Homo sapiens: one gene and its partners. The protein of the gene in region 4 binds, or shares a complex with, the protein of the main gene of each other region. Each region holds a gene or a part of one and is shown on either strand. Other genes may lie near its edges.

Evidence for each region.
Region 1: SNRPD1 (region 4) and SNW1 share a complex: the UniProt entries of both Homo sapiens proteins name them as parts of the minor spliceosome.
Region 2: SNRPD1 (region 4) and CWC27 share a complex: the UniProt entries of both Homo sapiens proteins name them as parts of the minor spliceosome.
Region 3: SNRPD1 (region 4) and SRRM2 share a complex: the UniProt entries of both Homo sapiens proteins name them as parts of the minor spliceosome.

The regions. Positions count from the first base shown.
Region 1 is NC_000014.9:77,757,783-77,766,183, reverse strand, and holds the start of SNW1 (SNW domain-containing protein 1), read left to right. Parts: upstream 1-5,027; 5' UTR 5,028-5,056; coding exon 5,057-5,070; exon of another isoform or gene 5,071-5,416; intron 5,417-8,401. UniProt on the Homo sapiens protein: Involved in pre-mRNA splicing as component of the spliceosome. As a component of the minor spliceosome, involved in the splicing of U12-type introns in pre-mRNAs.
Region 2 is NC_000005.10:65,009,686-65,017,356, forward strand, and holds part of CWC27 (spliceosome-associated protein CWC27 homolog), read left to right. Parts: intron 1-7,671. UniProt on the Homo sapiens protein: As part of the spliceosome, plays a role in pre-mRNA splicing. Probable inactive PPIase with no peptidyl-prolyl cis-trans isomerase activity. As a component of the minor spliceosome, involved in the splicing of U12-type introns in pre-mRNAs.
Region 3 is NC_000016.10:2,755,508-2,763,178, reverse strand, and holds part of SRRM2 (serine/arginine repetitive matrix protein 2), read right to left. Parts: intron 6,846-7,671; coding exon of another isoform or gene 6,815-6,845; coding exon 6,573-6,814; intron 5,708-6,572; coding exon 5,600-5,707; intron 5,399-5,599; coding exon 5,234-5,398; intron 4,710-5,233; coding exon 4,632-4,709; intron 4,195-4,631; coding exon 4,132-4,194; intron 4,040-4,131; coding exon 4,007-4,039; intron 3,828-4,006; coding exon 3,777-3,827; intron 3,611-3,776; coding exon 3,518-3,610; intron 3,433-3,517; coding exon of another isoform or gene 3,390-3,432; exon of another isoform or gene 3,057-3,389; intron 2,879-3,056; coding exon 2,680-2,878; intron 1,619-2,679; coding exon 1-1,618. UniProt on the Homo sapiens protein: Required for pre-mRNA splicing as component of the spliceosome. As a component of the minor spliceosome, involved in the splicing of U12-type introns in pre-mRNAs.
Region 4 is NC_000018.10:21,615,076-21,622,746, reverse strand, and holds part of SNRPD1 (small nuclear ribonucleoprotein Sm D1), read right to left. Parts: intron 23-7,671; coding exon 1-22. UniProt on the Homo sapiens protein: Plays a role in pre-mRNA splicing as a core component of the spliceosomal U1, U2, U4 and U5 small nuclear ribonucleoproteins (snRNPs), the building blocks of the spliceosome.

The DNA of each region.
Region 1 (8,401 bases), on a different chromosome or scaffold from region 4:
CTCCAGCTTGAGCAACAGAGTGAGACCCTGTCTCAAAAAAAAAAAAGAGATAATTTTCATATATATATAAAAGTTGAAACAATAGTTCAATAAACACCTATACAGTCCACACTCCCCCATCTAAGCTTAAATAATTGTTAACATTTTGCTTTCCCTTTCATGCTCTCTCACACTCTCTCACTATAAACACACACACACACACATTTTTTGTTGTTGAGATAAACTATTTGAAAGTAAATTGAGGCTGGGCATAGTGGCTCAGGCCTATAATCCCAGCACTTTGGGAGGCCAGGTGGATGGAGCACCTGAGGTCAGGAGTTCGAGACCAGCCTGGCCAACATGGTAAAACCTCGTCTGTACTAAAAACGCAAAAATTAGCTGGGCATGGTGGCAGGCGCCCATAATCCCAGCTACTTGGGAGACTGAGGCAGGAGAATCACTTGAACCCGGGAGGCAGAGATTGCAGTAAGCCAAGACTGCGTCACTGTACTCCAGCCTGGGTGACAAGAGCAAAATTGTGTCTCAAAACAAAAAACAAACAAAAAAGAAGAAAGTAAGTTGACACATTTCATCCCCAAATCCTCTGGCATGCATCTCCCAAGAATAAGAACGTTCTTCTACTTAACCACAATGTCATTAATACTCCTAAGAAATTTAGCAAAAATTCTACAATGTTGTCTATTATCACTCCATATGCAACTTTCTCCAAATGTCCCAAGAATATTTTTTATAGTTTTCCCCAACTGAACCAGAATCCCATCAAGGTTTACTAATTTTATGTGTCATGTCTCATCAATCTGTTTTCATCTATTCTATTCACATCCATTCCATGACATTGACATTTTGTAGAGTCTCAGTCAGTTGTCTTGTAGAATGTCTCACATTCTGGATTTTACTGATTGTTTCCTCATGCTTTTAAACTTGTTACTCTATCCCCTGAATTTCTTGTGAACTGGACATTAGGTCTGGTTTGATCAGAAAATTGGTGAACTTCCGGCCAGGTGCAGTGGCTCATACCCGTAATCCCAGCACTTTGGGATGCCAAGGTGGGTGGATCACTTGAGGCCAGGAGTTCAAGACTAGCCTGGCCAACATGGTGAAACCCCATCTCTACTAAAAATGCAAAAATTAGCCAGGCGTGCTTGCTCATGCCTGTAATCCCAGCTACTCGGGAGGCTGAGGCAGGAGAATCGCTTGAACTAGGGAGGCAGAGGTTGCAGTAAGCCGAAATCGCACCACTGCACTCCACCCTGGGCAACGGAGGAAGACTCGGTCTAAAAAAAAAAGAAAGAAAGAAAGAAAGAAAGAAAGAAAGAAAGAAAACTGGGGAACTTCCTATTAAAAGCACCTAGTGTCAGATTGTTCCACTGTTAGTGAAGCAAAAGTGATGACAGCCAAATCTCTCCATCGTAAAGATACGTTATTTCTTTCGCAGTTCCTAAGTAATCATTGGCTCTAGCCTTTTTAACTATGCTTTAATGCAAACCAATATTTTAATTAAAAAAAAATTTTAAACATTGAGAGGGCACGTAAAACACATCCAAAAAGTAAGAACGGTGTGGTGGAGCAGCTCTACTTTTTATCAGAGAATGATTATAATAATATAGCCATAATAACTAAAGCATAATGGCATCAGAGCATAAAATACTGGCATTGAAGTAAATTTAAAAAAACATCCTATAGTAGAAAATGTTAGTGGGAAGGTACCCCAGAAATAAAATTGAGTTCAACTGCCTCACTTTGCAGATGCAAAACCTGAACCTTAATAAATTAAGGCCAATTCATTAAAGCCAGAAAGCATAATTAATTTTTGAGCGCTTACTCTATGCTGGGCATTTTTCTAAGCACTTCACATGATTAACTCATTTAATCCTCCCAATAGCTTTATTGAGGATAAGTTATACTGATTCCACGCCCCTCACCCTTTTTATTGGCCAGTGAGAAAACTGAGACAGAGAGAAGTGACTTATCCAGAATCTACAGCTCATAAATTAGGGAGCTGGGATCAGAAGGCAGGAAAGCTGACTCCAGAATATGTGCTTAACTTGTCCTCCCTACCACCTCACAAGCTATATTACTTGTGGCTACATAGCCACACCTACTTAGGAATCAAATTAGGCCCTAGGTTCTCTGAGAACAATTCTACTCTCTATCCAGAATTCTAAGACTGGAGTGAATTGATTGCTTCTTGCAACCTGGCGCATTACTGATTCCAGCATGCACTGGGCTCTCTACATGAGCAGGCAGCTGCTAATTACCTATGATAATGAGGGATGGATAGGCACTGAAGATTCAGCATAGCTTAACACCAAACCCCCTCCCCAACAAAACCAAAGAAAGCACTAGGCCTTTGGGTATAATATTGTATCACGTTTGCAGTAGATTTGCTTTCTTAATTGTTTTGATAGGATTGCTATTAAAGTCAGTTTCTATTCTTTACACACCCCCAAAACAGCGAGGGACTATGACTGGTGGAAATGCCTTGCATGATGTGCCTCTGTGGAAAATGAGAGTGGATTGCAAAAGCTCTTCTCCACCCTGTTCTTTCAATCCTGCATCCCAGGTCTTGGTCTATGTCTTACTGATTTCCCATGTTAATTATTTTAACCTTGTCCTCAGTAGCCTCCTTTGTCTCTCATTGCCATAGAAACCCATTCTGCCTTAAGAATTGTCTTTCTTGCCTGTTCCTTTGACCCAGGCCCTCTACTTAAGTCCTCCTTCAGCTGCAAATCACCTGCTGAACTAAATCTAAGCTCCTTGATCTTGGCTTCCAGGACGTTCTATAATTTGCTTCTCTGTTTTTCTCCTTTTAGAAATAATACATTCCTGGAGCAGAGGTTGAAGTAGATCACTGTCAACCAAAATATTAACTGTAATAACTAACATATTTACATAGTACTTAAGAGTTAAGTAAAAACATATCCACCTACATTACCTCATTTAAGGCTCATACTCTGCTGTATTGTATATAATTATTTTACATTTATATAAATATAGGTAAAGCAGATAACATGATCAGCATTTTAAGTTCAATAAAACTGGGGCCCAAATAAATTAAATGACTTGCCCTATAAGAATTTATTGGTGCTGAAGCTACATCTTTTTTTTTTTTTTTTTTTTTTCTGAGACAGTTTCACTCTTGTTGCTCAGGCTAGAGTGCAACGACGCACGATCTCGGCTCACCACAACTTCCGCCTCCCGAGTTCAAGCGATTCTCCTGCCTCGGCCTCCCGAGTAGCTGGGATTACAGGCAAGCACCACCACGCCCGGCTAATTTTGTATTTTCAGTAGAGACGCAGTTTCTCCATGTTGGTCAGGCTGGTCTCAAACTCCCGACCTCAGGTGATCTGCCCGCCTCAGCCTCCCAAAGTGCTGGGATTAAAGGCACAAGCCACCACACCCAGCCAAAGCTACATCTTAAACTCTAATCTTCGGGCTCCCAGGCCATGCAGGTTATATTACACAATGTGATTAACAATCCTGTATTTACCAAAAGATTTTTTCTTTTTGTTTTTTTGGTTTACATGCTGTGGCAGGCAGAATTCTAGGATATCCCCCAAGATCTCCTCCTCACCCAACCCCCACAGTACCTGACCTACATAACCCCTGGGGCCATGACTATGAAGATTCTGATTCTGTTATGCGGTGTGGCAGAGTTGATTTTTTTTTTTTTTTTGAGACAGAATTTTACTTTGTCACCCACGCTGGAGTGCAATGGTGCAATCTCGGCTCACTGCAACCTCCACCTCCTGGGTTCAAGCGATTCTTGTACCTCAGCCTCCCAAGTAGCTGAGAAAACAAGAGCACATCACCACACCCAGCTATTCTTTTATATTATTTATTTATTTATTTATTTATTTATTTTTATTTTTTGAGACGCAGTCTCACTCTGTCGCCAGGCTGGAGTGCAGTGGCGTGATCTTGGCTCACTGCAACCTCCGTCTCCTGATTCACACGATTCTCCTGCCTCAGCCTCCCCAGTAGCTAGGACTACAGGAGCGCGCCACAACGCCCAGCTAATTTTTGTATTTTTAGTAGAGACAGGGTTTCACCATGTTGCCCAGGCTTTGTCGAACTCCTGAGCTCAGGCAATCCGCCCGCCCCGACCTCCCAAAGTGCTAGGATTACAAGTGTGAGCTACTGCGCCCGGCCAAGAGTTGATCTTAAAATAGGGAGATTATCCAGGTGCTCCTGATCTAATCACATGAGCCCTTTAAAAGCAGGGCATTTTTCTCCAACAGTGGCAGAAGAGGAGTCAGAAAGATGTGCCTCAGAAAGCAAATATCCATGTTGTGAACTACCAATAAATAGGGCTCATGTGGGAAGGACTCGAGAGTGACCCCTAGGAGCTGAGGGTGGCCACCACTAACAGCACAAAACAAAACAGGGAACTCGATCCCACAACCGCCAGGAACTGATTTTTGCCAACAAGAATGAGTTAGGAGATGGATTTTTCTCCAGAGCCTCCTATGAGATTTCAGCCTTGTCATACCCTGGGCAGAGAACCCAGACACTCGGTAAATTACCAAGGATTACGAAATATCTCCCCAAGAGAGTGTTTTGGCGGGTGAGAGGATATGGTTTAAAGAAAAGTTTTGAGTGTGAATGTTTTCAGAGAGTCCAAGGACTCTCCATTAGCTAGTCTCATTATTACCTGTCGTTTTAAACGCCCTATCACTCTTACTTAAAGTAGCTGTCCCCGGGAAGCTTTTGTATTTTGTACCCCTTCTCGGGGAACGGGACTGAGTAAGGAACGTAATAAAGCGGCCTAAAAGGCATCTCCCTGTATCTTTGATATTTTGCCTAGGGAACGCCCTATCATGTCGCATATAAGCGATCGAGTTATGCATTTGTTGCTAGCTGAAGAGATTATTCCTTGATAACCGCTTGGTCTGGTCAGAATACAAACGGTACTCCTGTTCAAAGAACTACAAATCCCAGAAGGCCTTTTCGGCCAGAGCGCCTGCGCATCGCGCACTCCTTCCTTTCCGCTCCTCATCATCTGGAAAGACCCGCCCAGCGGTGCTGTCGCTCGCGCTGGAAGAAGCGGAAGAAGATGGCGCTCACCAGGTGGGTTGTTGATTGGGGTCCTCGATACGGAAGGGTCTGGGAGTACCAGTCTTCTTCATTTCTCTTCCCATACCCTCCGGGCGGTGACCTGACCCGGGGCACAGAATGACGTGGGCCAAGACTACGGCTACGCCCTCCCGCTGGCCGCCGCTACGACTAGGCCTAGTCGAAGCTGGGGTCTTTCAGCGGTTTCCCGGGTTTAGTTCACCCGCTCACCGAGGCCGAAAGCTGCGGAGTGGTCTCAGACACTGAAGAGTGGGTTTTTCGCGTGAGCATCTTGCGGGGAGCGGACAGCGCTCCCTCAGGTCCGCGGCTCGGGCGAACGAGATGGGGTTGGTGACGGTAGTGGCTTATTTGGGCGGAGTGAAGCGCGCGGGCTGCGACTGCGCGGCTTTCCGGCCGTTTGCCTGTGGTGGTCTCTCTCCTTTCGCTGTCCACTGGGTGTCCCGAAACAAGGATTCCTGAAAAAAGAGGCCCGGAGCTGAACACAGATTTAAATGAGCCACAGTAGTGACCGCCGTCTGCTGATATGCGCCACTGCTCCGCATTTTAACTTTGGAGCTTAGAATTTCTTCCGTAGATAGAACCACCTCAGTTTTGCTGTTTCCGGTTACCTTAGTAACCGTCTGTAAAGTGCTCTCCGCCTTTAAGAAAAAGATGCTTTTCAGTGGGAGAGTCCGAGAAGTTACGCTACTCCTACTAGTTCCCAGCCTTGCTGCCCCATTTTAAGTGGAAAAACTTTCCATGCGAACTCAACAGGAAAAGGCTAGTGTTCAGGAAGGTTATAGATAAAGTAATCCTTTCAGGACATCAGCTTGAGCTCTTTTAACACCCTTCATTCTCCTCACGCATGTTTTTTTTTCTGGCTGATGACAGTATGACTCCAAAAGTTTTAATCAAAAAATTATTTTGGGAATTACTGTTGGTGCCTTGCTCTGTCCTGGGGGTTGTGTACACAGAAGAAAATCTGTCTTTGGCAACAGGGAAGATAGGGGTGCAAGGTATACAGACATAAAACAATTACAGAACACAAAATGTGCATTTGTGTAATACTAACCTTAGTGCAAAAAGAATTGAATGGAATAAGTTATGTGGGCTGGAGAGTTTTCTCCCCACCCTCGTTTCTAAAATTTTTTTGCTTTTTTTTTTAACTTTATTTTTTGAGATGCGGTCTCGCTGTGTTGGCCAGGTTGGTCTTGAATTCTTGGCCTCAAGCAGTCCTCCTGTCTCGGCCTCCGAAAGTGCTAGGATTACAGGCATGAGCCACCATGCCCGGCATCTGAAATTTTTTTAAAAAAAAACTAGAAATAGGGTGTTACTGCGTTGGCCAGAGTGGTCTCCAACTCTTGGCCTCCATCAATCTTCTCACCTAGGCCTCCCAAAGTGCTGGGATTGCAGGCATGAGCTACCATGCCCAGCCAAGAGTTTGTTTAGTAAATGTTACAGGCAGCAAACATTTGAGTGCTCCCCAGGTGTGAGACACTGTGTCATAGACTAGTAAAGTTATGAGGGGAGACTTTGTGGAAAAGGTGGAATTTGAAATGGACACACAGGAAAAATTTCTAGAGATGTCATGGGTATTTTTTATTTATTTTATTTTTTGATATAGGGTCTCACTCTTGCCCAGGCTGGAGTGCAGTGGCCCAATCACAGCCCACTGCAGCCTCAACCTCCCAAGGCTCAGGTGATCCTCCTGCCTCAGCGCCCTAGAGTAGCTGGGACTCTAGACGCTTGCCATGATGCCCAGTTAATTTTTGTTTTTTTTAGTAGAGATGGGGTTTTGCCATGTTGCCCAGCCTGGTCTTGAACTGGGCTTAACTGATCTGATCTACCCATCTCAGCCTCCCACAGTGCTGGCATTACTGGCGTGAGCCACCACATCATCTGGCCTGTCATGGGTATTGCGTGCTTAAAATTGCAGTGGCAGAATGCGATCTTTAAATGGCCAGTCTTGAGGACTCCAGAGCTTTCCATACCTACCATCTGGTGTTCCTCAGTATTCTTTGTAATATCCTTTAAATCAGTAAACACATTTCCCTGAGTTCTGTGAGCTGCCCTAGCAAATTAGTTGAACCTGAAGATGAGGTCATGGGAACCCTGGTTTGTAGTTAGTTGGCCAGTGGCCTTGGACCTACTGTTGGCATCTGAAGTAAGGGCAGTCTTGTGGGACTGAGCCTTCAACCTGTAACATCTGACAGTATCTCCAGGTAGATAACATCAAAATTGAATTGAATTAGAGGACACTTGACTGGTGTCCAGTAGACACAGTTGATAGCTTGCTTGATATGTGGGGAAAAACCATCACACATCTGGTATCAGAAGTGTTGTGTGTTGTTGATTGTTGAGTGAAATAATAGGAGAAACTGAGTTTGTTTTAATTTTATACTCTATCCACATGGAGCTTACACTCTAATGGGACAGAATTGGAATTCTAGTGGGACAGAATTCTAATTAGCTTACATTCTAATGGGACAGAGTGAGTAAAATCATAATGCAATTTCACGTAATACATGCTAGGAATAAAATAAAGACCGGGTTAGAGAGTGACTCAGAGTTTGGGGTGAAGTGGCTATTTTGGGTAAGGTGGTCAGAAAACAGCTCTAGAGAGAGGTAACTGAGCAGAGACAAGAGTGCTGAGATGCAAGCTGTTGAAAGATCTGGGGCTACTCTAGGCATACTGCCTGTGGGATAGCCCTGCCCAGCAAGGAGCAATCAAAAAAGAAAAGATCTGGAGATCTGGAGAAGAATTTTCTATAAAAGCATACGAAAATTTGTTCTTTTTTTTTTTTTTTTTTTTTGTGGCAGAGTCTCACTCTCACCCAGGCTGGAGTGCAGTGGAGCAATCTCAGCTCACTACAAACTCCACCTCCCAGGTTCAAGTGATTTTCCTGCCTCAGCTGGGATTACAGGCGTCCGCCACCACGCCCGGCTAATTTTTGTGTTTTTAATAGAGACAGGGTTTCACTATATTGGCATGGCTGGTCTCGAACTCCTGGCCTCAAGTAATCCACCTGCCTTGGCCTCCCAAAGTGTTGGAATTACAGGTGTGAGCCACCTCGCCCAGCCGGAAAAATTGTGATTGATTGCAATAGATAGATAGATAGAGAAAAATTGTGATTGATTGATTGCAATAGAGAAAAATTGTGATTGATTGATTGCGATAGATAGATAGATAGATAGATAGATAGATAGATGATTAGATTGATTTGATGGCAGAAGGAATAGCCAATGTAAAGATCCTGAGATGGCTTGTTTAAGAAAAGATAAGAAGGCTGTAGTGAAATAAAGATGGTGAGTGCTGGGGAAGAGTGTATTTATTTCTCCTACAACA
Region 2 (7,671 bases), on a different chromosome or scaffold from region 4:
ATGTAAGGACACAGTGAGAAGGCAGGCATTTGCAATCCAAGGAGAGAGCCCTCACCAGACACTGACTGATGGCACCTTGATCTGGGACTTCTGTCTGTGAGAAAATAAATTGCTATTGTTTAAGCCACTCAGGCCATGGTATTTTGTTATGGCAGCCCAAGCTAACTAAGACACAAAGTACAAAATAAGTTAAAATGATAATAAATGTTTGGATTGCACTTTGCCATTTGCAGAGCCCTTTCAAATCCATGATGTTTGATCCTCAGGCCACGTGAGGTAAATAGGTTGCACATTACCACCCCTCTCCACAGGTGAGGAAACAGAGGCCTGAGAAGCAATGTGACTTTCTCCAGTAATAGTGACTGAATGTAACTCAAATCAAACTCAGGGCTTCTGAGTGCATACCACAGAGGTTTCATAGAAGGTGTTAAAGAAATTCAAAGGCAGGAACAAATCCTGAGGCCCAGGGCAGTCAGAAAAGAATTTTAGGAGGAAATGGGAATTAAACTGGGCTTTGAAAAAAACAGGGACATACACCAGTGGGAAGGAGGCGGAAGGGCGTCCCAGAGAAGTGATGTGGACAAAAGTATGCTGCAGCCCACCTATGATACAGAGCAGGTCCTTTCAAAGGATCAGATGTGGGCAAAACTTGAAAATTGTTTGGTCTTGCTGAGATTTTTCTTTAAAAATAAAAAGGCTGGTTTTGCTTTTTAAATACAAGTCTCCTTTCAACCCTACCCCTAAAAAACTTAAATCAGATTCATTAAAGTTTGTAATCCACAGTCCCATAGAATGACAATCTTAGTAATAACTAGGAGCTATTTTGTTAGGTTTCTTAGAATTCTAACTTAACAGAGAAATTAGAAGCTGTCAACACAGTACACTAACACAGTACAGAGACAAATTTTGTGTATGGCAAAATTTCATAAAGAATGGCAAGGTCTTTTAACCCACATGGGGAAGGCTGTCCGAGGACAATATATGTACTTTCTCCCACCTCAAAGGCTAATCATACACTAGACAGATGTCAATCTTCAAGCAGTTTAACTGGTCCATTTGAGAAAGATAAGTGTTGGATTTTCATATCATAAAGTTAGTAGTAGTAGAAATACCTTGTTTCAGCTGTTCGAGTAACTTATTACCCTTTTCTCTGGCATTATCATGTAAGAGTTTATAAACATAATTGCTCAATGATTTGGAATTATGTATTAATACTATCAAGGAGCAAGGTGAACAAAACCAGAACTCTAGTCAAAGGTTTTGGAGGTGGCTGGCTACTCAGAAACATTTATTTATTCAGCACACATTTATTGAGGGCATTCTTCTTGGCAAGCATTGCTGGCTAGTACAAAGGCCAATTGGTACAAAGGCGAATAACAGAGCCACCATAGAGCCAGGTGTGGTGGCACATGTCTATAGTCCCAGCTGCTTGGGAGGCAGAGGCAGGAGGATCACTTGAGCCCAGCAGTTCAGGGCTATAGTGTGCTATGATTACTTGAATAGCCACTGCATTCCAGCCTGGGCAACATAGCAAAACCCCATCTCAACAAAAAAGCAGAGCCGCCACCTTCAAGAGCACCTGCAGCCTAGTAAGGGAGACAGCAGTTACACTGTAGTATGAGGAAGACTAAACCAGAGAGATATTCAAGATTCTCTGCAAGACCAGAAGAGGGTCTTAACCCTGGGGGAGAAACAGCAGGTCAGATCAGGAAAGGAATCAGGAACCATTTCTAAGATGGAGATAACACTCAGCTAACTGAGAGACAGAAGTGTATAGTGTATATAGAGGCAGCGAGGAAGAAGGAGAGTGCAGGCGTTTGTTCAGGAAACTTCAAAGAACTGGGATGTCTGGAGCATAGATGTGATGGGAGAAGGAGATGTAACAGGCTGGAGAGGGAAGCAAAAGCCAGATTATAGAAGCCACATTGGGAATTTTGGGTTTCCTTGTGTAGACAATGGAGAGCCACCAAAGCATTTAAAACAGAAGAGTTTTCATGGCTACATTTGCATTTTTGAAAAATATAAAAGACCTGAGTATTATGGACCACAAGGTAGTCCTTAGTAATTCGATGGCTGAGAGGAGATTGCCAGATATCCACCCTTGCAGAGGCAGGCTGTGGGCCCTTGGTTCTGCTCCTTTTGGACTTCCAGCTGAATGAGGTGTCCCTGCTTAGCATCCCTATTTTAGGAAGAACTAGAAGAAACTGGAACTGAGATTTCAGATAGCACTGATTAAAGGCAATAAGGAGATAAAAATTTATAGGGGGAATTAATGCTTTTTCTTTTTTGTAAGTAAGCATTCACCTAAAAGAGTTGTGCCTTTTCCCAAAGATGCTCCCACATTGCTCAAGACATTTCTGGAATTTCTCTTTTGAAATTTCTTTAATGTCCAACCTGGATTCATGTCTTTTTATGGTTGCATTTTTTAAATTTTGTACTCCAAAATAAGCACTACTCTATCTGATTTCTTATCTTCCTTACTAGACCTAGCACTGAATTGACTTTTGATGTATTCCCAAAGTTAAATCCATCTTTACAGGATGAAAGTTTTGTTACCTCTGAAGACATAGAAGAAAGTATCTGGTCAAGAAGTTATCAGCTACAAGTTTCTCGACCCTCAGTCTCAGAGACTGCCTATGAAACAGGGGTGATAATAATATTTTTCCTGCCCCCCACCACATTCAGTTATTGTAAAGATGCTACCAGACAACATGGGAAAGCTTTTTGTAGAGTGCTGCATCAGCGAGTGCTATTTTTGTTGTCTCACAGTTTGCAGGCAATTCCAAACTCTGCGTTTACCACATCGTGGTGTCTGTCTGTATGTTCTTACAGATTGTTTACTTCATGGAAGTAGGGCCTGGGTCATATTTGGCTTTGTTTTACCAGTGTCCAGCGTTGGCAGCATGCATTAAAAGCCCCCAGATGTTTTTTGAATGAATAATTGAGTCTAGCTCATTGCCTTTTCCTCAAATCACATATATCAGAAATAAATAATGCACTTGAGATTATTCAGTTCAAATAATAGACTCAGAGGCTACTTGAGTTTCTTTGAGTAGTTTGTCATTAGGAACCAGCTGTTCTCCATCTCTGAAGGGGCAAGGACAAAGGGCTAATGAAATCAATCAATCTGAAAGCATAAAAGCTCTTAAGCTTTATTTCTGTGCCCTTTACTTTGACTGCATTTAAAAATAACTAGGAACATTTTTTTTAAGTTACTGATGCTGGGACCCCATCCCAGAACAATTAAATCAATACCTTTGGAGTTGGAAGCCTGGCACTGATAGTTTTTAAAGCTACTTGGTGATTTTAACATGCAACCTGCATCGGATGCAGGGGCTCTAGAAATATGCTTTGAGAAACATTGCTTTAAACAAATAAAAAATAAAAAAAGGGGCCCTTCTCTCTAGTTCTACATCAGGTGCTATATGAGATGGATAAGAACATAAGGCATGTTCCCACTGCAGTCTTTTGAGGAAATAAAAACTAGCAATCACTAGTATGAGTGAGTGGAAAAGCAACTATCAGTATTTGGTGAGCTGTGAGAAATGAAAAGAGACTTATGCTGAGCCTGAGACTTTCTGCAGAATCTGGTAGATGTTTTAGGGAGTTTATCATCAAAATATAAGACAGTCTCTACCCACAAAAGGAAGTTGACTCTTAGCTTAGCAAGCCTTCTAGTACCAGCCAACAGGCCTGACCAGTACAAAGGGTCTGAAGGCCTTATTCCCAACACAAATCACCATGTTTGGCACCGGGAATGCAACAGTGAACAAGACTCAAACTGTCTCAAACAACTGAGTCTGTTCACAATCAAGTAAACAGGCAATTACAAAATGGGGAGAATTGATGAAAGAAATGAAATAAGGTTGGTGAGATAGGAAGCACCAGTTGTTGGAGGACTTTTAAGGGTAGACTGAGGTATTTATTTCAGTCTAATATGATAACCAGTAGTTTCTGATCAAAAGAATGCTATAAAAGAAATGTGGAAGAAATATTATTTTTTAAGCTTTGGATCTGGGAAGGAAATAGTACAGATGTACAACAATTAGGACACCTGCAACAATCGTAGGGTTGGGTGATAAGTTCCTAAGTTAGGGTGGCTTGGATGTGGGAAGAAGAGGTTTGTAGACTTCCCAATGAAAAAGATAGCTGTTTATATTATATAAGTAATTTAAATTCATTTAAATCGGAAATGAATTGCTAATGTTGGAATTCTATATTAGACTACTTATTGTGTGTCTGAGAATCAGTTCCTCTCTTGATATTTCCCATTGATACAAATAGCTATTGTATCTTAGTCTATTTCACAATTGTGGGAGAACTTTAAAAACTGGATAAGAAGTTAGTGAAGTCAGTCAAGGTCTAGTCCTTTTTGAAAAATCAGTTGTTTACTTCTGTTTGTAATTTTACACAGCCCCATACCAAAAAAACACCAAAAACAATAACAAAAAAACCACTTTCCTGTCAAACACAACCTCTCTGAAAATAGTAAACTTCCATATTTTAACATACTATATATATAATATATACTATATACTACAATATATAATAGATTACATATTATATATGATATATATAATATATACCATAGAGATCAGTTATATATAGTGTATATACTGTATATATACTATATATACTATATACCATATGTATAATATATAGCTATATATTATATATAACCATAGATTTTATATATACACTATATATAATATTGTAACACACTATAAAGTCAATGTTATTTGAGAATCTGAGCCTATGTGAAATTTTTTATTAATCAAACCTAAATTTTTGTCTTTGCCTTCAAGTGAACAAGCTCTACAATTTTCATATGTAAATGATCAGTGTGTAATTAATTCCAAAAAAATTCACTACTTTTTTTGGGCCAATTCCATAAAGAGCCGCAGAGTGGATAGTATTGAGTTATTGGGACATACATGATTGTAAACTATCAGACCCCCTGTACTCAAATTGAGTCCGTATTCTAAATCTTATTGTGTATCCTCATAGGAGACTGTAAAGTGCGGGCATGCTTTCAATTCGTACAGTCTGTGATTTATAGAGGCAAGTAGGTCAGGAATTTATTATGCTGAAAATCATAATAACTGTTTTGTTTTGCTTTTCACAATGAAGTGACCAAAGCATGTTGAAAGATAAATGGATGAAGCATTTTGATTATGCTTGTATTTCTATTAAAGGTTAAATATTATTGCCAAGTAACTAGCCATGCTAAGTATTATGATATTAAAGCTGAAGTAGTTTGTAAGCTGATAGCCCTTTCTTTCCTCTGGGTTTAGGTTTGTTATTAATCAAAATGTTGGACTTGCTTAGTGCAGTGGTGTATGAAACAAACAGTTGAAAAAGACAGCTCCTTTAACTCACGGCTCTCTGCTTTTTTTCAAATTTGTAAGGAAATCTGTTTCTTCTTGTGGACTTTATGCTGTTATTCATGTGTCTAGAGTTCATTTTTTATACCAGAGCCGACTAAATCCAATAGTTGCAAGATTCTCTCATGGCATAGAAAGGAAAAAGGTGCCTTTTTATATTCTTAATTGACAAATTCTGATCAAGTCATTTTTGAAACATGGAGAATCCCTACTAGAAATGGATATTACAGAAAACCATCTGTATTTCTGGGCAGAGAAAAGGATAATTTTTTAAATAGAAGAATATGTATATGAAGAGGTATTAATAAGACAGTAAGTTTGTTTTCTCATATCAATCCAGGAGTATTGATGAAAGTGTTTTAAAGGGCGTATGATTCCAGCTACACTGGTGTTGGCTTAGACATCAACACAGCCAGCCCGTAAGCACTTGGAACGCTGCTGCTAAGCATGTACTGAAGTGCAGTAGAGGGGTCTAGATGCCCCCGATGTGTGGTAAAGTACCTTTAACAGGACAGTCCTACCATTCTTCTGCACTTACTTCTCATCAGTGGTAATATTACAATTTTAAAGGGTGCATTTTGTGGGGGATGCAGCAAAGATTGTAAGAAGTGTTGAAGAAAAAGGCTACCTCTCAATGACTGGAGAAAAAAAGGCTTAATTTATTACTTAAGTAAAGAGGAGCTGTGCTTTTAGGCACAGTGTCTCCAAGCAAAGCAGGCTGCAAATCTTACATAGTGTTTTGGGGTCAGGAATTGTTTAGGGGCAGCTATCACCCTCAGAAGCCCCATTATTTGAAAGAAACTATTGTTGACTGGCTGGCTTTCAGAAGCATATTCACTGGAGCCAGTCTGCAGCCGACAGGCCAACTTTCAAAAGCATGTGGCTATCACTGGTTAATTGGCTTTCAGAGGTGTATTTACTGAAGTGAGTTGTCACTGATTATTTAGACCTTGGTGAGATATCATTAACTGCATAAATCTGGTTTAATTATTCTTCCAACTGGTTCTAGTGGTTTACTTAATACCATGGCTGTCGAACAGTCAGCCTTTTTCTGGGAGTTAGAGATTGTCTTACTTTCAGAAGCTAATACCTAAACGCTGTAGGAAATTGAACGCACAAGAAAATTAGATTTTGCAACTATTGTACAATACATTTTCTAATTAAGGGTGTCTACTAAAGGAATGGAAGTGTAAAAAGTCAGCAACTCCACATGTGAAATAGCATATTCAGGTATTAAGATCAGTTATGAAATTTGATACAAATTATGTATCATTAATAATATAGTTCTAAGCATGGTGGCATGCGCTTGTAATCTCAGCTCCTTGGGAGGCTGAGGCAAGGTGTTCACTTGATCCCAGGAGTTCGAGACCATCTGGGGCAACATAGCAAGATCTCATCTCAAAAATAATAATAATAATAATAATGAAGTATAAAAATGTGAATGTGACTTATTCAGTAAATTAAAGTAGATTCTAGATCATCCATATATATCATTTCTACTTATTGCTTTCCAGTAAGCTTTCTCAGGTGGGACAAAAGAAGGTAGAAACGGTACATAAGTCTCAACTCGCCAGCCCTGGTGAGCAGCAGCTACTGAACCCTTAGTAATGATGGTATCACTAAAATTGTGACATTTTATTTCCCTCCTAAAATCTTTTTAGGATTCTTCAAAATCTAGGTATACCCATGTGAGTTTGCCACACAAGTAAATTTCACTCATCATTTGTGCTGCTGTAGAGAGAAAAGAGTGAGGGATCTTCACTACTGCCTACCTACTACCCAGATCTCTGCTTATATGGGGGAAAAGATATTAGCATCATATTTGGGTTTCATCTGAAAGTTACAACAGGCATATAAGAAGTATTAATCCTACAGTTTAACCCTATCTGCTGTGATGAAGAAAAGTGTGTATAGGATATAACTGGTAGGAAAAGACTTAAGAGTTTTATTTGTATGAAAATTGAACTTTTCGCCGGGCACGGTGGCTCACACCTGTAATCCCAGCACTTTGGGAGGCCGAGGCGGGCAGATCACGAGGTCAGAAGTTTGAGACCAGCCTGGCCAGCATGGTGAAACCCCGTCTCTGCTAAAAATACAAAAAATTAGCCAGGCGTGGTGGCAAATCTCTGTAGTCCCAGCTACTTGGGAGGCCGAGGCAGGAGAATCGCTTGAACCCGGGAGGTGAAGGTTGCAGTGAGCCGAGATCGCGCCACTGCACTCCAGCCTGGGCAACAGAGTGAGACTCCATCTCAAAAAAAAAAATTGAACTTTTCTCTTTCTAAATTCA
Region 3 (7,671 bases), on a different chromosome or scaffold from region 4:
TAGATTTCAACTCAGGGTCAGGTGATGATTCAAAACAGCTCCGTCTCTGTGGCGTTACAGATTGCTCATTGGCCTGGGGACTTGTTATGGACCCTTGCCTCGGTGGTGTTCCAGATTTCACTTTAGGATGAGGAGATGAACTGGAATGACTTTGTCTTGATGGTGTCTTAGATTTCTGTTTAGGTGGCGGAGAAGAACTGGAGCGACTGCGTCTGGGTGGCGTTCTAGATTTAGCTTTAGGTTGGGAGGATCCAGAGCGACTGCGCCTGGGTGGTGTCTGTGACTTTTGTTTAGGGCATGGGGAAGACCCTGAAAGGCTGCGCCTCAAAGACAAGCGAGATTTTGCTTTGGACCGTGGTGAAGAGAGAGACCTGCTCCGCCTTGAAGAAATGCGAGATTTCTTCATTTCTGGGCTTGAATTGGACCTGCTTCTTCTTTGAGATGTTCTGGATTTGTTTTTCCGCTCTGAAGATGAGCCAGATCTGCCTCTTCTTTGAGGTGTTCTAGAGTGAGATCTTCCACGTCTAACTAAGCTTCTACTGCGGGATCTTCCTCGTCTTGGTGTCCTAGACCGAGACCTCCCTCTCCTGGCTGGTGTTCTGGAGCGTGAGCGACCACTGCGTCTAGCTGGGGTTCTAGAGCGTGAGCGGCCACGTCTGGCTGGGGTTCTGGAGCGTGAGCGGCCACGTCTAGCTGGGGTTCTAGAGCGTGACCTGCCACTTCTCCTGGCTGGTGATCTACTACGAGACCTGCGTCGTACTGGTGATCGGGTCCTAGATCTGCGCCTAGCAGGTGTTCTAGACCGAGACCTGCCCCTCCGGGCTGGTGTTCTAGACCGAGACCTACGCCTGGTGGGAGTTCTGGATCGTGATCTCCGCCTGGCAGGTGTTCTAGAGCGGGACCTGCCCCGGCGGGCTGGTGTTCTAGAACGAGATCTACCCCTAGTGGCTGGGGATCTAGAGTGGGACCTCCCTCGCCTTGCTGACCTAGACCTGCCTCTTCTCTGGGTATTTCTGCTCCTAGACCAGCCTGGTCGCTGAGGAGACCTAGAGCGGCCACGTCGCTGGGGGCTTCTAGATCTTCCCCACCTCTGTGCAGACCTGGACCTACGCCACTGGGGAGATCGGGATCGAGAATGACCTCTCTTGGTAGGGGTTCGAGACCGAGATCGCCCTCTCTTAGCGGTGGCAGGGCTACGGGACCTCCCCATCCTACGGGAGGGGGTATGAGAATGTGATTTATCCCGTTTTGCTCGGCCATGTGAGCGATTCTTAGATGTGGGAGAAGAAGAAATCTCTCGGTGGGACCCTGGAGCTGGAGCAGGTTTAGGACTTTCTGGGGAAGAGCTGGCATGCCGAGAAACTTTGGTAGGTTGAGGGGATGGTGGGCTGCTCTCTGAGGAAGAAGACTGGGGAAGTTTCTCGGGAGACTTAGGTGGTGAACGGTCCCGAGTTGGAGAGGCCTCAGATGGGGGGTTCACTGGCTCCTGGCTTAAGGGGGTGGTTGCAAGGGGTTGTGGGGAGCCGCCATGTCGCTCAGCAAGGAGCGGAGTGGGAGCAGGTGGTTCTGGGCCTGTGCTGCTCCTTTCCGGAGAGGGGCTAGGTCGAGTTGCAGATTTCTAAGAGTGGAAGAGAGAGCAGGGATAGGGATTCATAAACGCCAAAACTTCACATCACCCCTAAGATCCCAACACCCTTTCCAATGATAACTTTTCTTTTACACACCCTCTGACCACAAGCGATCACTTTCATTCAATAACAAGGAATCATATAAAGCACAGTGGTGAAAACATATGAATATATGGATAGCCAGAATCTTAAAACTAAAAGAAACACAAAATGCAAATAACTAATGCACTACTACATTTAACAAATACCACTACAAAATGTTATAAGAATGGAAAAAAACTATCTTTAAATGGAAAAATAAGCAGTTTCCTAAAGCGAATGGCAACTTCACCTTTGAAGAATAACTCTATTAAACGAAAAGAAACAGCATGAATAAAGATGTGAGAACATGATTTGTGTGAAGAGTAAAAAAGCAGCCCAGGATGGGTAGAGTACAGGAAATGAGAAAAAGACCAGACTATTAAAAGCCTTAAATATAATTCAAAAGCAATAAGGAAGTAGTTAAGTTTCTGAGGTCAACCAACTTGTAATTTGGAAAGGTAACCCTGGATGACATGGAAAATTGATGATAGAGGCCAAGAATTCAGACTGTAATCACTAAAGCAAGAGGAAATGATTAATGCTTAAAATTGGAACAGAAGACTACTGAAGACTATTTCAGTGTTTCATTCAAACTATTGGTGGCAACGCAATGGATTAAAAAGTTTTGGTGAGACATGACCAGCATTTAATGAAAAAAGAGAAGAAACTAGAGGCATCATACGGAGTACACAGATAAGATACAACGTTTGTTCCAGTTCTATCTATGTATAAACAAGACACAATATAAAACCTAACATCCAGTGAGATTTGATTCTAAAGGGTTCACAATTCAGTCTAGTAACAACACTAAAAGTTCTGCAGATGCAGTAAGAGAACTAGGAGAGAAATGCAGGAAAAAAAACTGAATTTATTTATTTTAATAAGTTATTACCTCTCCCTTTCACATCACATGTCTATCCTAAATCTATACATTTGCAATCCAATGAACATCACCAACTCAGGAACATACCTCCTTCTTGTCTTTATCTTTGTCTTCATAAGGGCTGCTAGGCTGTTTCGTAGCAGTCTCCGGGCTACTAGGCCGTTGTGTGCTGGTAGTACCTGGTTCACTGAAAGGCGCATCTCCCTCCCCGCGTCGCCCTGAAGCAGGGGAAGGACTTCGCCCAGCCAAGGCAGTTGTATGAGTTTTAGCTGCAGCACTTCGAGACCTGCAGGAGTTAATTGAGGACGTGGGAGAGGAAGGAAATCAGCTCAAAGGGAGAACAGAAAACCCCCTCCCCAACTCCCATCCACCTTTCCTAACTGGACAACCCTCTTCCAAAAAGCCTTTAGTCGCACAACTCAAATCATTCACTGAAATGCAAGTACAGTCCACTTTGGTTCTTCTTTTCCCAACACAATCCCAAAGAGCGTTCTCCCTCTACCCCTTTACTCACCTCCCCCAAACATCCCCAAACCATCCACCCAGCCCACTCCCTACCCGCTTCATTCACAACTCACCTCTGAGCCCACCTCCTTCAGGAAGCCTTCCCCGATTAAGGAAGCCAGGGTAAGGATTCCTTCCTCCCCCAGACACCACGAACAAACCACCACCCCCCCTATTCTGGCAGTCCATATACATCAGAACGAAACAAAAATAACAAATAAACAAAAACAAAAAAAAAAAGAGAAGGGGAAATGTATATGTCTGTCCATCCTGTTGCTTTAGCCTGTCAGCTCCTAGAGGGCAGGGACCGTGTCTTCCGAATGGTCTGTGCAGCGCCTAGCACACCGTGGGCGCTCAATAAATATTAAATTAATTAACCCATCATTCCCTCTCCCTCCCTTCCTCCTGGACTACCCCTTACCGACTGCGGGAAGTATCGGAGGAGGAAGCAGAGTCAGCAGAAGTTGAACGGTGGGCCCGGCGGCTCTTGGGGGCTGGTGTTGTACTTCGAGACCTGAAGGAAGACCACCACCACAGCTCAGGGTACTGCTGTACCTGCCCTGGATTCTCCTCACGTATCCCTCAACCCTTTACCAGTCAGGGACATAACTCATTCAACTCCCTCCCACTAAGGTGGCGTTCACTTACTTCCTAAGCAAATTCCCCACAAATTCACTCACCGCTTTCGCTTTTTGTCCTTAGATTTACGTTTGCTCTTTGGAGTGGGAGACCTGGGAAATAAGGAAAGGTTGTTAAAAGTAACTTCTTTAAAAAAGGAAATAAAACCAAAAGTGAAATGGAAAGAGGGAGTGTTGACACAAGGAAGATCAAGGAATTGAGCTTCACTCCAAGAAAAAAAAATCACCACTCCACATGCCACTGCGCCCCCTATGAGTTAAAGAGCTCTTACCTATGCTTACGTTTCTTGGACTCAGATTCTGACCTGTTGGAAAAAAGAGAAGAAAAAACATAAGAAACACCTCTGCCTGAATTCAGCAAACCTTCTCCAGTCATTCAAGTATTCCCACCTCATACCTGTGCTTCTTCTTCTTTGAGCTTTTCTTTCTCTCCCGTCGAGGAGAGCTGCTCTCTGACCTGCTAAAGATGGATTCAAAAGCAAGCTCATCCTGCTTGGCTTCTTTCCTGGCCCTCCCACTTACAATCTCTCTCCTAAAAAGGTTTCTAAAACACTTGAATGTCCTAATAGCACTAATGCCCCAGACCTAAGCCCAGGACTTATTTCTTCTTTCTCCAACAAGCACAAGTAACTCCTTAAGTCAACAAACCTCAAAATGAAAAAGAAAATTCCAGAATCCAAAATGCTGCTGGCCAATCTTAATTAGCAGAACTGCAAACTCAACACTTCCCCACTGAGAAACTCAGGTATTTCTTCTAGTTGAGGCCTCAATGGTAACTCCCTCCTCCCTGACAACTATCTCCTGCTTTGTGGAAGCCAGAACTGTCCACTTCCAGAGAGAAAGGTACACCACAGGATTGGTCCTCTGGCTATCAGAGTCACTTTCCAACTAACTTACCGTCCTCTATCTTTCTTCTTTTTCTTCTTCTTCTGCTTTGGGGTTGGTGAGCGAGAACTGCTAGACTCCCGAACAAGGCTAGGGAAAAATGAAAAGCAGCAGAGATGGGTGGTAGAACAAACATTCCTTTCTTTTCTTTAAAAGACAGAGTCTAAAAAAATAGTAATAAAAATAAAAAAATAAGAGTCTCGCTCTGTTGCCTCAGGTGGGGTGCAGTGGCAGCAACACAGCTCACACCGTAACCTCCAACTTGTGGGCTCAAAAGACCCTCCTGCCTCCACCTCTCCAAGCAGCCTGGACTACAGGCATGTGCCACCAACCAGCTTTTTTTCTTTTTGTAGAGATGGGGTCTCACTACATCGCCCAGGCTGGTCTCAAACTCCTGGCCTCAAGTGATCTCCTGCCTGAGCTTCCCAAAATGCTGGGATTACGCGCGTGACCCACTGTGACTAACCCTTGGACACATTTTTTTGGACACCTCAACTTCAGAAGAACAAAATCTGAAGAGTTTGGGAAGAAACCAGCCCGCAAAAAGACAAAAATAGAGCATGGAGCTTACAATCAAGAAAAGAAGCTGACAGTGGTTTCTTGGCCTTGTATACCTGTAAGGTTTGGGAGGCTCAGGAGCTGGTTGTTTAGCTTCTCGGGCACGACGCTGAGGATCAAAAGAGCTGCCATCTACGTAAGAATCACTGATGCCAAAGGCAGCACGGAGTCTTTCATTCTTCTTCTCATTTAATTCTGCCAACTGGTGAGTCTCCGTGACCCTAGAGAAAAGAAGGGCAAAAGTCTGAAGGAAATATAAAGGACAGAGCCATATTCAGAACACAAGTATAAGCAGGAGCCAAATAAGGCATGGGAAAGGCAGACGAAAGCAGGGAGGAAGTCCCACGTAAGGAAAAGGACAGCAGCAGCAGCCAGCAGCCAGAGTAGAGTCCAGAGTCATCGAGGGAGAGCGCAACACTCACGCTGGCCTCTGCCCTGGGGTCTCCTCCTTGCCCCCAGGGTTCACATCCTTCTCCAGCAACATGAGTCGAAAGGTCGCCACTTTTTCCTGAATTTGCTGTTCCTCGTACCTGAAGAACAAATCCCTTCAGGGTTAAGCTCGACAGGACACTTTCCCCAGTCCCAGGTTTCCATTTCCCTCATTCCCAAAAGGGGCCCCTCCCTCTCCATGCGCACACAGAACTTTTCGCTCACCCAAAAGTCCCTTCTGTCTGATCTTTTCCCATCATCTTTCTTCCCTCTACTTACTACTCCCTCTAGAACAGTGGATTTTAAATATGCTACACCTCAGGGACCAAAAGAAAAAAGTTAAGCAAGCAGGGTTCCAAGTGCTCCTCCCCAACTTCAACAAGAATGTGCCTTTTACTTCCTGGGATTCCAAAGTAAGGGATACTGTATAAAAGGATCACCATTGCTGAAGTTTAAAACCACTGCTCTAAAAGAGTTTTCTGCCTTAATGGGCTCCTTTTCCAAAATTTCCCTTCCCAGCCCATGATTCCCACTTCTTCACGTATTCTTCTAATTCCTCTTTTCCTGCCTATGCTACTTTCCAAGGCCTCAATCCTTACATCCATTTATCTTCTTCTTTTCTACCAATGACAACACCTATCAGCTTACCTAGCTCCTCTACCTGGTCTCTGCTTTCCCATCTCTTCCTTAAAACACATTTTTGTTCCTCAATGGCCCCTCCCTTCTCCCACGTGCCTCCATTTAGTACCTCAGGCTCCCATCTATGCCCCAGACACACAGCCTTCTCATTTCCCACTCTGCACTGTCCCTTAACTGTTTTCACTTCTCTAGAGCTCATCTGCCTCCTCCCCTACCACAACTCTTTGCCAGGCCTCTTTCAACCACCCTAAGCTCCCTATACATCCCACCTAACACCCCCAGCTCTGCACTCATTCAGTGCTTGACTCTCCCCCAGCTCTCCCTCACCCCTGCTCTTCCATCATCTCCTCCAGCTCGAGGCATCGCAGCTCGACGCGCCGCTTGCGCTCGTGGTCCAGGATGTCAGGATTAGGCCGCTTCACCAGGGCAGCCTCCAGGCGCCGCAGTTCCTCCTCTCCCTTGTAGTCAGGCCGCTCACCCCGGCGGCCCCGCACCAGGGACAGGTTGCGCTGGACGTAGCCGTTGGTGCCGCTGCCCCGGGGCGTCGGCAGCCCGATCCCGTTGTACATGGCCCCGTGCCCGGGGGGGGCACCACCGCTCCTGAGGGGGAGCGGGGAGACACGGGTCAGGCCCCTGGCCCCAAACTAACCACTTACCGCCCCACACCCAAGTCCCTGCTCTCCTTCATCCCTAATTCAACATTGATCTTCACACTAAGTCTTCGCTGTATAATGCTCCACCATCCTCCTGGTCTCCCAAGAAAACCACTTCTTTGCCCTTCCAAATTTCCTTTCTACCAAATCACAGCCCAGTTCTTACAGCCTTTCTCTCAATGCCCTTGCACAGAATTCTAAATAATCCCTCCCTACACCTAAATTTTCTTCTTTTTCCACCCTAGGCAAACAAGGATCTTGTTCCTCTAAAATCTCTCCACACTGTCCCTTTTTGTTCTCCTTTGGCCCCAAAATGCACAAGTGGTGTGTTTACCAACTACTCTAATTCCTAACCTCTGGTAACCAACCAAAGCCTCCTGGTCACAACAAACACCAGACACAGATCTGTGGCACCCAACGGCCTCTAGTCCATGTCCAAAGACTCTCCCAAAAACTTACCTAAGGATTTCAGACCACCCTATACGAATATGAAATAAACTACACAGCCCCTAGGTATCTGAACAGCAGACTAGTTGGTTCAGAATGTGCAGCCTCACACCCCAACTAAAGGCCAGCATGCACATCAGAAACACACATGAACCTTGGATAATCGTCATATACTTCACCTCCCAGGTAAGGGCCATTTCCTTGATTCCAAATATTTAAAGATCCTATCAACTATCCTGATATTTTATTCCTTCAATTTCCTTCCTCTCAATAGGATTTACAACAATTTGCAGTTCCTCCCTGTCTTGCCAGCTGTCAAATATTAC
Region 4 (7,671 bases):
ATGACTCAATTTCATCAAAAATCTATAAATAGGAATAAAACCATTTTTACCTGTAACACTTTAAAATCACATTTATTAAGGTGAAAGGGTGAAACAACTCGATGTTGAAAATTTGCTAGATGCTATCTGCATCAATTCCTATCAATAATCTGCATAACAATTTCAGCTTTCCTGAATTATATCCTCAACCTTTATGAAGGAACACAACAATACTAACATAAACTGTCATTTGGACGTTTCTAATTCTCAAACCTGAAATCCAGACATACAAGATCTTAGACTCATTATAAACCATGAAAAAGAAATAGGCCAGGCGTGGTGGCTCACGCCTATAATTCCAGCAGTTTGGGAGGCCAAGGCGGGCGGATCACGAGGTCAGGAGATCGAGATCATCCTGGCTAACATGGTGAAACCCCGTCTCTACTAAAAAATACAAAAAATTAGCTGGGCATGGTGGCGGGCACCTGTAGTCCCAGCTACTCGGGAGGCTGAGGCAGGAGAATGGGGTGAACCTGGGAAGCAGAGCTCTCAGTGAGCCGAGATCACGCCACTGCACTCCAGCCTGGGCAACAGAGCGAGACTCCGTCTCAAAAAAAAAAAAAGAAATAAAGAATTACAGTCGGTAAAAAGATTACAAGCTTATTATAATGCCTATAAAGTAAAAATCTCCCTTCCTAACCCCCTGCACTGTGGGTATGTAGGAATATTATTCCAGATCACTTTATATGCATTCAGAAGGATATATACAGATTTCTTTTGACATAAATTGGGTCATATTTTATTCACGTCTATAACTTGTAGTCCTCGTTTAGCAGTTTATATTGGACATATTTCCATTTCAACATACAAAACATTCTAAGAACTGAGGCTGGGCGTGATGGCTCATGCCTATTTATAATCCCAGCACTTTGGGAGGCCGAGGAGGGCGGATCATCTGAGGTCAGGAATTCAAGACCAGCCTGGCCAACATGGTGAAACTCCATCTCTACAAAAACACAAAAATTAGCTGGGCAGGATGGCGTACGCCTGTAATCCTAGCTACTCAGAAGGCTGAGGCAGGAGAATCGCTTAAACCTGGGAGGCAGAGATTGCAGTCAGCCAAGATCGCACCACTGCACTCCAACCTGGGGACAGAGCAAGACTCCATCTCAAAAAAAATTAAAAAAAAATAAAAATAAATTAGCGAGGCAAGGTGGCGCACGCCTGTAATCCCAGCTACTTGGAAGGCTGGGGCATGAGAATCGCTTGAACCCGGGAGGCAGCATTTGCAGTGAGGTGAGATTGTTCCACTGTACCCCAGCCTGAGTGACAGGGCAAGACTCCATCTCACAAAAAGCCAAAATAACAAAATAACATTCTAAGAACTGGAAAGTATTCCACTATATGGAAATGTCAAAATTTATTACCGCCTGTTGACGGACATTACTTTGGTTCAATTTTTTCCCATTACAAACCCAATTATGCAAACCCTCACCAACACAAGTTGCTATAAGTCTTTCAAATTTTTGTCAATTTGATGGGGAAAAAATTTGCTTTTCCTTAATTACCTGTGAGATTGAATATCTTATCTTTTTTTTTTGACACAGAGTCTCGCTCTGTCACCCAGGCTGGAGTGTAGTGGCACAATCTCGGCTCACTGCAACCTCCGCCTCCTAGGTTCACGCCATTCTCCTGCCTCAGCCTCCCGAGTAGCTGGGATTACAGGCGCTCGCCACCACACCTGGCTAATTTTTTGTATTTTTTTTTTAGTAGAGACGGGGTTTCACCATGTTAACCACGATGGCCTTGATCTTCTGACCTCGTGATCCACCCGCCTCGGCCTCCCAAAGTGCTGGGATTACAGGCATGAGCCACCGCGCCCTGCCTGAATATCTTTTCATTAACATGGGAAAACTATTTCTTCCGTGAATTACCTGTTCACATTATTGACATTCTCAATTAGGTTGAGTTTTTCTTTTATTTTCTACTGGTTTGCCAGTCATTCAAGTTTGTTGTTTATGGTTTCTTTAGTCACACAAACTTTTTTCACTTTTATGTTTTGAATTTGTTCACCCTCCTGGGATACATAATTTACCTAAGAAAGGGTTTTTTCTATGCCAAGATTGTAAAAAAATAGTGTCTTATTTTCTTCTACTTTTAGAGTTCTAATCTACTTGGAATTGATCTTTTTTATGCAGTGTAAGGCACAAATCTGTCTTTATTACTTTCCCCAACTGAATAGCCAGTTGCCTTGATAATATATAATGAACAATCTATCCACTTCTCACTTCATCTAAATTTCCGTTCTCCCCTTTTTATAAAATTTTGCAGAGGATGAAAAGTTAAAGGGTTTACAAATATTGTCAATTGCCAGTGCAGTGGCTCATGCCTGTAATTTCACCACTTTGAGAGGCCAAGGTGGGATGATCACTTGAGGCCAGGAGTTCGAGACCTGCCTGGTCAACAAAGCAAGATCCTGTCTCTACAAAAATAAAAATAAAAAAAAAATTAGTTGGCCGGGTGCGGTAGCTCATGCCTGTAACCCCAGCACTTTGGGAGGCCAAGGTGGGCGGGTCACAATGTCAGGAGTTGGAGACCAGCTTGGCCAATATGGTGAAATCCCATCTCTACTAAAAATACAAAAAATTAGCCAGGTGTGGTGGTGCAGGTCTGTAATCCCAGCTACTCAGGAGGCTGAGGCAGCAGAATCGCTTGAACCTGGGAGGCAGAGGTTGCAGTGAGCCAAGATCATGCCATTGCACTGCAGCCTGGGTGACAGAGCAAGACTCCATCTCGAAAAAAATACAAATAAAAAAATTAGCTGGGCCTGTTGGCTCATGCCTGTAGTCTCAGCTCCTCGGAGTCTGAGGTGGGAGGATCGCTAGAGCCCAGGACTTTGAGGCTGCAATGAGCCATGACTGTGTCACTGCCCTGGAGCCTGTGTGGCAGAGCAAGACTCCGTCTTTTTTTAAAATTCTATTTTTTTTTGAGACGGAGTCTCGCTCTGTCACCCAGGCTGGAGTGCAGTGGCATGATCTTGGCTCAATGCAACCTCCACCTCTTGGGTTCAAGCAATTCTCCTGCCTCAGCCTCCCAAGTAGCTGGGACTACAGGCGCCTGCCACCACACCTGGCTGATTTTTGTATTTTTAGTAGAGACAGGGTTTCACCCGTTGGGCTGGTCTCGAACTTCTGACCTCAGGTGATCTGCCCACCTTGGCCTCCCAAAGTGCTGGGATTACAGGCGTAAGCCACCAGGCCTGGCCCTTTTTTTTAAAGACAGTCTTCGCCAGGTGTGGTGGCTCATCCCTGTAATCCCAGCACTTTGGGAGGGCGAGGCAGGCGGATCACCTGAGGTCAGAAGTTCGAGACCAGCCTGGCCAACATGGCGAAACCCCGTCTCTGCTAAAAATACAAAAAAATTAGCCAGACTTGGTGGCACTTGACTGTAATCCCAGCTACTGGGGAGGCTGAGGCAGGAGAATTGCTTGAGCCTGGGAGGCAGAGGTTGCAGTGAGCCAAGACTGCACCACTAAACTCCAGCCTGGACAATAGAGTGAGACTTTGTCAAAAAAACAAACGAAAAAAAATTGATCACACCATCTCAAAGTAAGTTGTAGGCATTACGACACTTCAGCATGCATTTTCTAATGACATTCTCCTATATAACCATAATCTCACAATCACATCTAAGAAAATGAACCCCACACTATCATACAATACACAGTTCATATAAAAACTTTTAGTCTATAATATATACTTTGAATTAACAGATCCTATCATCACACTAAATGGTACACATAAGATAACCTATTATCCTCCCGCACTAGACTATTCTTGAGGGTAGGGATCGTAAGCTCTATATCTAATCCTAGACTGTAATAGGCACTGAATAATGTTGGCTGAAATGTTTTAATGAATAAAGGGAAACCAACCTTAAAATGCCTTTTTTTAATTTCTTTTTTTTTAGTGGTATAGACAGCCATCACAAAAAAGAAATTACTTGGTCTGGGATATAACAAGCCTCAAACTTTAAGAAGACTCATGAGTTGAATCTCTTTTTATATATGACATCAAGAAAACGTTTTTCTCAACGAATTGGTAACACTTTATTTCACCAGAGAGTTATTCAGCTCCAAATTTAACAATCAATTATAACTAGAAAAGCCTAGAATTCTGAACTAATGGTTTCCTCCCATTATCAAGTTTTTGTTTTTATCTTTTACACGAATTTACTATCCCAGTTAGTAAGAACTTTTACTATAAAAGTTCTTCAAATCATTTTTGGAAGCAAAGAAGATAAATAAAAGGAAAAAAAAAACCTTATGTGGCCAGGCGCGGTGGCTCAGATACATAAAAGATACGTAAAAATAACTAAGTTGTAGAAAGCAATAAAGATATACAGAGGTTTTTTTTGTGTTTTTTTTTAAACAGAGGTTTTTAGTTTAGGTTTTTTCTGAGACTATGCCACCATGCCCGGCTAATATTTTTTAAATTTTTAAATTTTTTGTAGAGATGTGGTTTTGCCATGTTGCCTAGACTAGTCTTAAACTCCTGAGCTCAAGCAATCAGCCTGCCTTGGCCTCCCAAAGTGCTGGGATTACAAGCGTGAGCCACTGCACCCAGCTACACACAGGTTTTTTACTAAGAATATATTGTAGCATGTGGAGAGGGGAGTCAGGTATTAGGGGACTCCTAGTAAGAAGCCTGAAAAGTTGGAAATATGCAGCAAGAAGAAACAAAAGAAAAAATACAGCATAAGACACAGAGTAATTATAGATACAAAGATGGAGTCTTGTTCTGTTGCCCAGGCTGGAGTGCAATAGCGCAATCTCAATCTGAGCTCATTGCAACCTCCGTCTCCCGGGTTCAAGAGATTCTTGTGCCTCAGCCTCCCAAGTAGCTGAGACTACAGGCGCATGCCACCACACCCAGCTAATTTTTGTATTTTTAGTAGAGACGGGGTTTTACCATGTTGGCCCAAGTGATCTGCCTGCCTCGGCCTCACAAAGTGCTACGATGACAAGCATGAACCACCACGCCTGGCCGATGAAATGTTAAGTTCAATATTTTAGGTCCTATGAGTAGAGAGGAGTTAGGCAGGTTCCTTTCATGGAAAGCCTAAGCTCTGTTAAAGAATTCCTCTAGGAGAGCTACTGAAGGATTTTCATCAATGAAGTGGAGTACCAGGCTCATATTCACATTTAAAAGAGAACCTAGGGCCAATGTTCAGAAACAGATTTTAGAAAGACAAGAGACCAAAGTATAATCTCTAGGAAGACAAATTATGTGACTAGAGCAGTACATATACAAGTTAAAACTACAGTAATCGAGACATAAGGAACAACAAATAGATCAATGAAACAATACAAGCAAACAGATCTATTTCTGGTCCCACATTTACATGGTTGATTTAGCTGGGATTACAGGCACTCGCCACCACAACCAGCTAATTTTTGTATTTCTTTTTGTTTTAGTAGAGCCGGGGTTTCACCATGTTGGTCAGGCTGGTCTCGAACTCCTGACCTCAGGTGATCTGCCTGCCTTGGATTCCGAAAAGTGCTGGGATTACAGGCATGAGCCACCAAGCCTGGCCTTATATGGTTGATTTTTTACAAAGGTGCCAAAGACGTGTAACAGGCAAAGGAAAGTGTTTTCAACAAATGATGCTGGAATAACTGGAAATCCATACAGAAAAAAAACGAACCTGGACCACTAACACCATTTTCCAAAAGTAATCCAAGATGGATGATAGTCACTTGAGCCCAAGAGTTCCAGATATAGGCTGGGCACAGTGGCTCACGCCTGTAATCCCAGCACTTTGGGAGGCCAAGGCAGGCAGATCACAAGGTCAGGAGATCGAGACCAGCCTGGCCAAAGTGGTGAAATCCCATCTCTACTAAAATACAAAAAAAATAAGCCAGGCATAGTGGCACATGCCTGTAGTCCCAGCTACTCGGGAGGCTGAGGCAGGGGAATCACTTGAACCTGGGAGGTGGAGGTCGCAGTGAGCCGAGAGTGCGCCACTGCACTCCAGTCTGGCAACAGAGCAAGACTCCATCTCAAAAAAAAAAAAAAAGACTTAAAGAGTTCCAGATACATAAAAATCGATCAGTCAGGCATGGTGGCTCACGCCTGTAATCCCAGTACTTTGGGAGGCCAAGGCGGGTGGATCACAAGGTCAGGAGTTCGAGACCAGCCTGACCAACATGGTGAAACCCTGTCTCTACTAAAAATACAAAAATTAGCCAGGCGTGGTGGCAGGCGCCTGTAATCCCAGCTACTTGGGAGGCTGAGGTAGGAGAATCGCTTGAACCTGGAAGGCAGAGGTTGCAGTGAGCTGAGATCGCACAATTGTACTCCAGCCTGAGCTACAAGAAGAGAGACACTATTAAGGAAATGAACATGTAAACCACACACTGAGAGAAAACACATCTGACAAAGAACTGGTATCCAGGACACAGATCTAATTTCTACAACTCTGGGCTGGGCGCAGTGGCTCACGCCAGTAATCCCAGCACTTTGGGAGGCCAAGGCGGGCGGATCACGAGGTCAGGAGATTGAGAACATCCTGGCTAACACGGTGAAATCCCGTCTCTACTAAAAATACAAAAAATTAGCCGGGCGTGGTGGCAGGCGCCTGTAGTCCCAGCTACTCGGGAGGCTGAGGCAGGAGAATGGCGTGAACCCAGGAGGCGGAGCTTGCAGTGAACCAAGATCATGCCACTGCACTCCAGCCTGGGTGACAGAGTGAGACTCCGCCTCAAAAACAAACAAATAAGCAAAAAACCGACTAAACCCTAAGGAGATACCACTACATACCCACTAAAATGGCTAAAATTAAAGACTGAGCAAACAACACCACATACTGGTGAGGATGTGGACCAATTGTTATTCTAATATATTGTTAATGGAAGTGTAAAATGGTACAACCACTTTGGAAAATGGTCTGGAAATTTCTTAAAAAGCTAAACACATAACTATGTTACAGTCCATCAACTCCACTCGAGTATTTACCCACGAAAATTTGTTTCCCTCCAAAAACCTGAAGAATATTCAACGTAGTTGTAAACAAAATACATAACTTTTTATTTTATTTTCTTGTAATTTTTTAAAATACGGAGCTTTTTTTTTCTTTTTTCTTTTTTTTTGAGACGGAGTCTCGCTCTGTTGCCCAAGCTGGAGTGCAATGGCGTGATCTCAGCTCACTGCAATCTCCACCTCCTGGGTTCAAGGGATTCTCCTGCCTCAGCCTCCCTTGTAGCTGGGATTACAGGCACCTGCCACCATGCCCAGCTACTTTTTTGGTATTTTTAGTAGAGATGGGGTTTCACCATGTTGGTCAGGCTGGTTTCAAACTCCTGACCTCAGGTGATCTACCCGCCTCGGCCTCCCAAAGTGCTGGGATTACAGACGTGAGCCACTGCGCCCGGCCTAAAATACAGAACTTCCAAACACACAATGCACTAATATCCAGTAATAAAAATGAACACATTACTGATACACTTCACAATGTGGATGAATCTCAAAAACATGTAACTAAAAGAAGTTTTACGCAAAAATACTTTGTGATTCCAAATATATGAAATTCTAGCGCAGGCAAAATTCATTTCTGGTGGAAGAAACTGGTTGCATCTAGGGGTATGGAGCCAGAGGTTGCCTGGGAAAGGCTTGAGGAAACTGTCTGAGGTTT